Linked DNA regions of Homo sapiens. The protein of the gene in region 1 interacts with the protein of each later gene in a pairwise test. Each region holds a gene or a part of one and is shown on either strand. Other genes may lie near its edges. The genes, in order: SNX13 and NR1I3.

Region 1 (3,818 bases):
TGGATCTATACTTAGGAATGAAATTGCTGTATCAGGATATATATATATATATATATATATATATATATATATATATATATATATATATGTTCAGTTTTAGTAGATACTGCCAAGTACTTTTTCAAATTATTTGTACCACTTACATTGCCATCAACAGTACATGAGAGTTCCAGTGTTCTACATCCTGCCAGTACTCAGTATTTTGTTTTTTTAATTTTAGCCATTCTGGTTGTTATATTTCATGCGAATTTGCGTTTCTGTGATAACTGTTGAAATGTTACACACCTTTTTATATGTTTATTGGCCATTTGAATGTTCTGTCTTATGCGTCTGTCAAGACCTTTTGTCATTTTTCTGTTGGCTTAGCTGTCTTAGTTCTTAGCTATCTTAGTTCTTTTGATTAGTAGGAGTGCTTTATGTAATCTGAATGTGAGTTGTTTGTCAGATATATGTAATACATTGTCTTCTCTCTAGGTTTCTTTCTTGTGCTATATATGTTATCTGTGCCTATTGCAGGGTCACAGAGATGTCCTATAATTTTCTTTAAAAACATTTTTTGTTTTACTGTAACAACATTTAAGTTTGCAGTTCATCTGGGATTGATTTTTGTATATGGATTGAAGTATGGGTCCAGTTGATCCAAGCACCATTTACTGAAAAGGCCATCTTTTCCCCACTGTACTGTTTCTCCCTTATCACAAATCAGGTTACCATATATGTTTGGATCTGTTTTATTCTGTTCTATTAGGCAGATTTATTTTAAGTTGTAATTATCTCCTTTCTGTTTCTAATCGAATTTGTTTATAATCAACTGTCTTAATCAAAAATAATATTTTCATTTGGTTTTTCAAGATTATTTTAGGATGTTTATTATGTTTATTGATGGTATAATATCCATAACATTGTACCTTTGGTATGTGGTTTTTACAGTTTAGCTATTTATTAGATTTTCATATGGCACCAAACTCGTAGGAATATACTTGATCAGAGAATACAGAAGTTTTTATTCTGTCTCAGTAATGAAATGGGTCTCCCTCTCCCTACTGGTTTTGATTAAGCTGTATGATTTCAGTTTTTGAAATGGAAGGTGCACTAAGGAAATGTTTGTAACGTGACAGTGAAAAATGTATAACTCATGCTTTCTTGCCAGTATTTAAATTACAGTGTTGATGAGGAAATAATTGGAAACAGTTTCTCAGTGATGAAAAAATTATAAAATTACTAACAATTATATGTGGTACTAAATCTGTACCTGCTTTTTATTTTATACGTATTTTTTTGCATCAAAGCATTCCGATCGTCTTCCTTTTTACCTTAGTGGTTGTATACTTAGTGGTTGTATACTCCCATAATACTGACTTTTATTTGCTAAAAGCTAAAAGAAAATTCTAGTAATTTAGTAAACTATGCCTTTTGTAATGTGAATTTAGTTGTGTGATGGATTGAACTTCAGCATCTTTTTCCTGAAAGTACATAAATACATACAATTTACTAACTAAGCAAAATACATTATTCTGTATCATTCATGTTTTGTTCTATTAAATATATGGAGATGTTGAGAATATCTTATTCTTGTGAAAAAGATGCATCAGAAAATAGACAAAGGGTCTAGCATTTGCCTTATCAAACTCATACAGTCTCTTCCAATAGTAAGAACCAAATCATCTTTTCCTAGGACCATCATGAATCTACTTTGCCTTGAAAATGTTAAACTATAGCCTTAAAATTTATTCATTATTGTGGGGCTATGAAGTTCTGTATTCTGTCAGAATGACTACTAGAAATATTTTTTCTACATTAGAATTTAATGTCAAGTTACAAAGGCTAAAATGTAACTTGTTCTCTGACTTGTGAAATATCAATCATTTCGTAAAAGCAACAAAAGTAACAATTCATAGTAGATAGCTAACTCAAACTTATTCTTATTTCTTATATTTTGTCAGGTGGATGACAATATTCCACTTAGGGTAATGCTGCTTCTCATGGATGAAGTATTCGACTTAAAAGAAAGAAATCAGTGGTTGCGAAGGAATATCAAAAACCTACTTCAACAGCTTATTAGAGCTACATATGGCGATACTATTAATAGGTAGCACTCTTTCCTCCTCGCTTTTAATCTGATCTTACTTAGCTATTAAACTCTTACTTCTGGAAGTAGATTGCTCAACCTTTGTAGGAGAATTTTTTTCTCTGGGCCTTTTAAGGACATCATTAAAGCAGTCTGTTGCTCTCAGGGATAATTTACATCCAGATTAAGTTGCTTGCTCTATGAAAGTCACGTTTATTTTTTTCACCTTCTAAAATTTTAACCTTCCTCATTTACATTAATTTACTTTCAGAAAAATAGTTGACCATGTTGACTGGATGACTTCACCTGAACAAGTAGCCGACTCAGTGAAACGTTTCAGGTATATCTTAAGACACAGTCACTTCTTTCAGGTAGTACAGAGTTTAGCATTGTTATCACTAATTAACTTTCATTGCTTTTGTTTCCTTCCTGGACATAAAGTTGGTTTAGTTATCATTGATGAGCAAAAAGACTTCTAAGAATTATACTAAACATTTGTCTTATGAACCTATTGATCTTTGTTTCTTTAAAACCAGAATAGGAAAAGTAAGAAGAAAGATCTTTCAAATGATAGGCTACATTTTATCACAGTACCATGGCTGTAAGATAATTGAAATATTCACCTAAAAATGATATGGTTGTATCATCAAATATCTAGTTTTGGGGATTAGTTTTTCTCAGTTGTATTTTCTAACCTTCATTTTAAATGAAATTGTTTTAAGTAAGTCTCTCTGGCTATGTTGTAATTTTTTATTAAATATTGGAACCTCTACAAGGAACAAAAATTAAGTAGGTACCCTACTTCATATTTCTTTCTACAAAAAATACTGAGCGCCTCCTCTGTGCCTAGCACTCAGCCCATTGCTGAGATAAGATGCAGTCCCTTGAGGAAAGTACAGATAGTAGAGAAATAAACCTCTTTTCTGAAAGTGAAGATAAGCAATGCGTAAAAATTCATGGCATCATGTATTTTGAAGGGAAGGAAAGGAAGCAAGAAGGGAACTATCAGTATTGAACACTAAGTTCTTGGCACTGTGCACAGTACTTTATGTATGCTTTCTGATTTTATGCCATTTTTCGAGGTAGGTATTTTTGTCTCTATTTTGTTATAAGGAAATTGAGGATTAGAGAAGTTGAATAGGCTCTCAGGCTACAAAGTGGGGAATCTGGTTTCTCTAATCTGAAGCTAAGTTTCTTCCCACTGTACCATACTGTTTCCAAAACTTGGACTAGCTGCCCTGGCATGTTCATTTTATTTCAGGGTAGGTAAATGATGTTCCTCTGGAGTGGTGATTATCAGCTTTGGCTGTTCATTGGAATCACCTCTAGAGCTTTAAAAATTACTAATGCCTAGATCCCATGTCCAGGGAGTCTGACTTAATTAATCCAATGAAAGGCCTGAACATGAAGAGCCTGTAAAGCTCTCAGGTGCTTCTAATGTGTAAAGTTAAGAACAGCTGCTCTGGGGAGTCTTGCCCTTACACCAAATTCCCAGATGAAAGCTTAGTTTTTGTGCTCAGTCCCTGCCTTCAGACCAAGAATTAGGGAACAGGAGTAAAGCACACTGAAAGTTAAGAAGAATGGGTTGTTTTACTTGTGAAAGGACCATTATAGTCAATCCATCTGTAAGTTGTGGGCTTAGAATTTAGTATTATGTAGGCTTAATTATAAGAGGAGTGGGATGGCATAACTGAAGGAGATAGCTATTAAACTCTAAGGCATTGAGATTCAAGATATTGTAGGGTTGCAT
Region 2 (4,309 bases), on another chromosome or scaffold:
GATCACGAGGTCAGGAGTCCGAGACCAGCCTGGTCAACATAAACCCCAGCTCTACTAAAAGTACAAAAATTAGCTGGGTGTGGTCGCTCTGTCACCCAGGCTGGAGTGCAGTGCTGCGATCTCGGCTCACTGCAACCTCTGCCTCCCGGGTTCAAGTAATTCTCCTGCCTCAGCCTTCCACGTAGCTAGGAATACTAGCGTGCGCCACCATGCCTGGCTAATTTTTGTATTTTTAGTAAAGACAGGGTTTCACCACGTTGGCCAGATCTCTTGATCTCATGATCTGCCCAACTCGGCCTCCCAAAGTGCTGGGATTACAGGCATGAGCCACCCCGCCCAGCCAAAAAAAAAATATTTTTTAAAAATAGCACTTTATTATTATTATTATTAGAGATAGGGTCTTGCTATGTTGCCCAGGTTGGATTCAAACTCCTGGGCTCAAACCATTCTCTCCCTGTCTCCAGAGTAGGGGGATGTACAGGGCATGTCACTGTGCCCTGTGGTCACTCTGATTTGATTCTCAGCCCTCCCTAGTTAGGAAGTGAGAGGGCTCTTTCCGTAAGCTCTTACTTAGATCGTAGTCTCTCTCTCTCTCTCTTTTTTTTTTTTTTTTAGACGGAGTCTCACTTGTTCTGTGCCCAGGCTGGAGTTCAGTGGCATGATCTCAGTTCACTGCAACCTCCGCCTCCCGAGTTCAAGCAGTCCTCCCACCTCAGCCTCCCAATTAGCTGGGATTACAAGTATGTGCCATCATGCCCAGCTAATTTTTGTATTTTTAGTAAAGACAGGGTTTCACCATGTTATCCAAGCTGGTCTCGAACTACTGACCTCAAGTAACCTGCCTGCCTCAGCCTCCCAAAGTTCTGGGATTACAGGTGTGAGCCACCGTGCCCAGCCCCTAGTCTCTTAAAAACTTTTTTTGGGGGAGCCTTGTGGAACTGTCACACCTCTTCTTTTAGTACTGACATACTGCGTGTGAAAAAGCTTGCTCTGTCTGTCTGCCTGTCTCTCTCTCTCTCTCTCTCTTCCCAGCTTGTTCAGGATCTCTGTACACAGAAGGCTGCAGATGTAGCCTTAAACTCATCAACAGGGAAAATCTCGATGAGTCTAATAAGCAGCAGCTTCCAATGAGTCACAAGGTTCCCACCCACTGGAGTCCCTCCCCGTGTGCCACCAACCAGCACTTTTGTCATGCTGGGAAAACCTCCCACCCAGGCCTTTGCCCTGAGTCCAGGGTCTGTGCCCTAACCCCACAGTCACTGAGAGCAACTGGAGGCCACATAAAACAGACATCTCTTGTTTTCCAGATACTACGGGTCATAATCCCTAACTCCAATCACTGGCAACTCCTGAGATCAGAGGAAAACCAGCAACAGCGTGGGAGTTTGGGGAGAGGCATTCCATACCAGATTCTGTGGCCTGCAGGTGACATGCTGCCTAAGAGAAGCAGGTAGGAAATCTGTTGGGGACCAAAGACTAAATGTAATAAAATACAGATAATGCTGGGGGCTAGGCATAGTGGCTCACGTGTGTCATTCCAGCACTTTGGGAGGCCAAGGTGGGGGGATCGCTTGAGCCCAGGAGTTCAAGACCAACCTGGGTTACATAACAGACCCCATCTCTACAAAAAAGAAAGAAAAGAGGCCAGGCGCGGGAGCTCATGCCTGTAATCCCAGCACTTTGGGAAGCCAAGGTGGGAGGATTGATCACTTGAAGTCAGGAATTTGTTTTTTTGTTTTTTTGTTTTTTGTTTTGTTTTTTTGGGTTTTTTTTGAGATGGAGTCTCGCTCTGTCGCCCAAGCTGGAGTGCAGTGGCGCAATCTCGGCTCGCTGCAACCTCTGCCTCCCAGGTTGAAGCGATTCTCCTGCCTCAGCCTCCCAAATAGCTGGGACTACAGGCACATGCCACGATGCCCAGCTAATTTTTGTATTTTTAGTAGAGACGGGGTTTCACCATGATGGCCAGGATGGTCTCGATCTCATGACCTGGTGATCCGCCCACCTCGGCCTCCCAAAGTGCTGGAATTACAGGCATGAGACACTGCACCAGGCCTAAGTCAGGAATTTGAAACCAGCCTGGCCAATATGGTGAAACCCCATCTCTACTAAAAATAAAAAATTAGCTGGGCATGGTGGCGGGCACCTTAATCCCAGCTACTCAGGAGGCGGAGGCATGAGAATCACTTGAATCTGGGAGGCGGAGGTTGTAGCGAGCCAAGATTGCACCACTGCCCTCCAGCCTGGGTGACAGAGCAAGACTCAATTTCAGGGAAAAAAAAAAAAAGGAAAGAAAGGAATAAGAGAGGGAGGGAGGAAGGAAGGAAGGAAAAGAAAAAAATATCCTGGTGTGGTGGTGTGTACCTATAGTTCCAGCTACTCAGGAGGTTGAGGCAGGAGGATCCCTTGAGCCCAGGAGTGTGAGGTTACATTGAACTATGATGCACTCCAGCCTAGGCAACACTAGGCAACAGAGTAAGACTCTATCTCAAAAAACAGAACAAACAAATAAACAAAAAAAAATAAACAAAAAAACCAACCTGGGCAACATGGCAAAACCCCATCTCTACAAAAAAAATAAATAAATAAATAAACAAAAATTAGCTGGACATGGTGGTCTGGACCTGTAGTCCCTGCTACTCAGGAGGCTGAAGTGGAGGATTGCTTGAGCCCAGGAGGCAGAGGTTGCAATGAGCAGAGATCTAGCCTAGGTGACAGAGCAAGAACTTGTGTCAGAAAAAAAAGAAAAAGAAAAAGAAAAAGAAAACCACAAAAGATAACGCCAGGGATCAAGTCAAGGGCATGTTTGGTTTGGTTTGGAAAGAGACTCTCTAGAAGGGACAGAAAAGGGTCAAGGGTGGCCCAAAACTGACTGCTGACCCCTCCTACATTCAGGAGTCTGTGACAGCCACCCCAACACGTGACGTCATGGCCAGTAGGGAAGATGAGCTGAGGAACTGTGTGGTATGTGGGGACCAAGCCACAGGCTACCACTTTAATGCGCTGACTTGTGAGGGCTGCAAGGGTTTCTTCAGGTGAGAGTCTCCTCCCCAATGGAAATAGCCCTCCAAACCAAACTCCCTATTAGTCAGCCTTTACACCCTCGCTGGTGCCCAAGCCTGTCCAGCTACATTACTCCTTTATCTTAGAGTCTAACTACCCTGTGGCTGGCATCCTACATCTTGCCAAACACATCACTGTATAAACTGGTGGCATAACAGAGGGAAAGCTGAATGTTTGTCTGATGGACACAGCCCATTAGTCAAGAGCATTTATTATGTACCCACTGCCTGTGAAGCACCTAGCTAGTACTACATCAACTAGGCTTTCTGGAGTGATCCTGTGTTGCCATGGAAATGCTTGAGATGTGTTGGATACTATCCACCCCTGGGGACCTTTGGGCACAGCTCAGATTAGTCCATTTCACCAGATTCCCAGGTCTTTTAGACCATGTCATCTCAGCCCCTCACCTATCCATTGCATCCCAGACTCTAACAACATCTCTGTGTCTCACAGGAGAACAGTCAGCAAAAGCATTGGTCCCACCTGCCCCTTTGCTGGAAGCTGTGAAGTCAGCAAGACTCAGAGGCGCCACTGCCCAGCCTGCAGGTTGCAGAAGTGCTTAGATGCTGGCATGAGGAAAGACAGTGAGTTGGCCCCCTACATCTCAAGAATCCATTGACTGCGTCTGTCTTTGTCCTTGTTCCCAACAGTGCATTCTCTACATAGCAGGCACAGTACTCTTTTTGAAACTAGTTGGATTATGTCACTATTCACTCAAGACATCCAATGGCTCCCCATCTCAAAGTACGTGATCTCATGATCTAGCTCTCCCACAACACCTTTCAGACTTTATTTCATACTCTTCCCCCTTTACTCAACCAATTCTAGCCACACTGACTTCACTGTCATTCTTAGAAACACCAGGCCGGGCGCGGTGGCTCACGCCTGTAATCCCAGCACTTTGGGAGGCCGAGGCAGGCGGATCACGAGGTCAGGAGATCGAGACCATTCTGGCTAACACAGTGAAACCCCGTCTCTACTAAAAAAATACAAAAAAAATTAGCCGGCCGTAGTGGCGGGCGCCTGTAGTCCCAGCTACTCGGGAGGCTGAGGCAGGAGAATGGCGTGAACCCGGGAGGCGGAGCTTGCAGTGAGCCGAGATCGCGCCACTGCACTCCAGCCTGGGTGACAGAGCCAGATTCCGACTCAAAAAAAAAAAAAAAAAAAAAAAAAACACCAAGCGCACTCTTCCCCAAGGCTTTTCCACTTGCCATTTCCTCTACCTGAAATGCTTTTCTCCTAGATAGCC

The links.
Region 2: the proteins of SNX13 (region 1) and NR1I3 interact in a two-hybrid assay, tested with the Homo sapiens proteins (one large-scale study listed by BioGRID and IntAct).

Annotation. Positions count from the first base shown.
Region 1 is NC_000007.14:17,797,280-17,801,097, reverse strand, and holds part of SNX13 (sorting nexin-13), read left to right. Parts: intron 1-1,943; coding exon 1,944-2,089; intron 2,090-2,339; coding exon 2,340-2,408; intron 2,409-3,818. UniProt on the Homo sapiens protein: May be involved in several stages of intracellular trafficking. May play a role in endosome homeostasis. Acts as a GAP for Galphas.
Region 2 is NC_000001.11:161,235,182-161,239,490, reverse strand, and holds the start of NR1I3 (nuclear receptor subfamily 1 group I member 3), read left to right. Parts: upstream 1-1,287; 5' UTR 1,288-1,430; coding exon of another isoform or gene 1,431-1,450; intron 1,451-2,892; 5' UTR 2,893-2,925; coding exon 2,926-3,032; intron 3,033-3,513; coding exon 3,514-3,644; intron 3,645-4,309. UniProt on the Homo sapiens protein: Binds and transactivates the retinoic acid response elements that control expression of the retinoic acid receptor beta 2 and alcohol dehydrogenase 3 genes.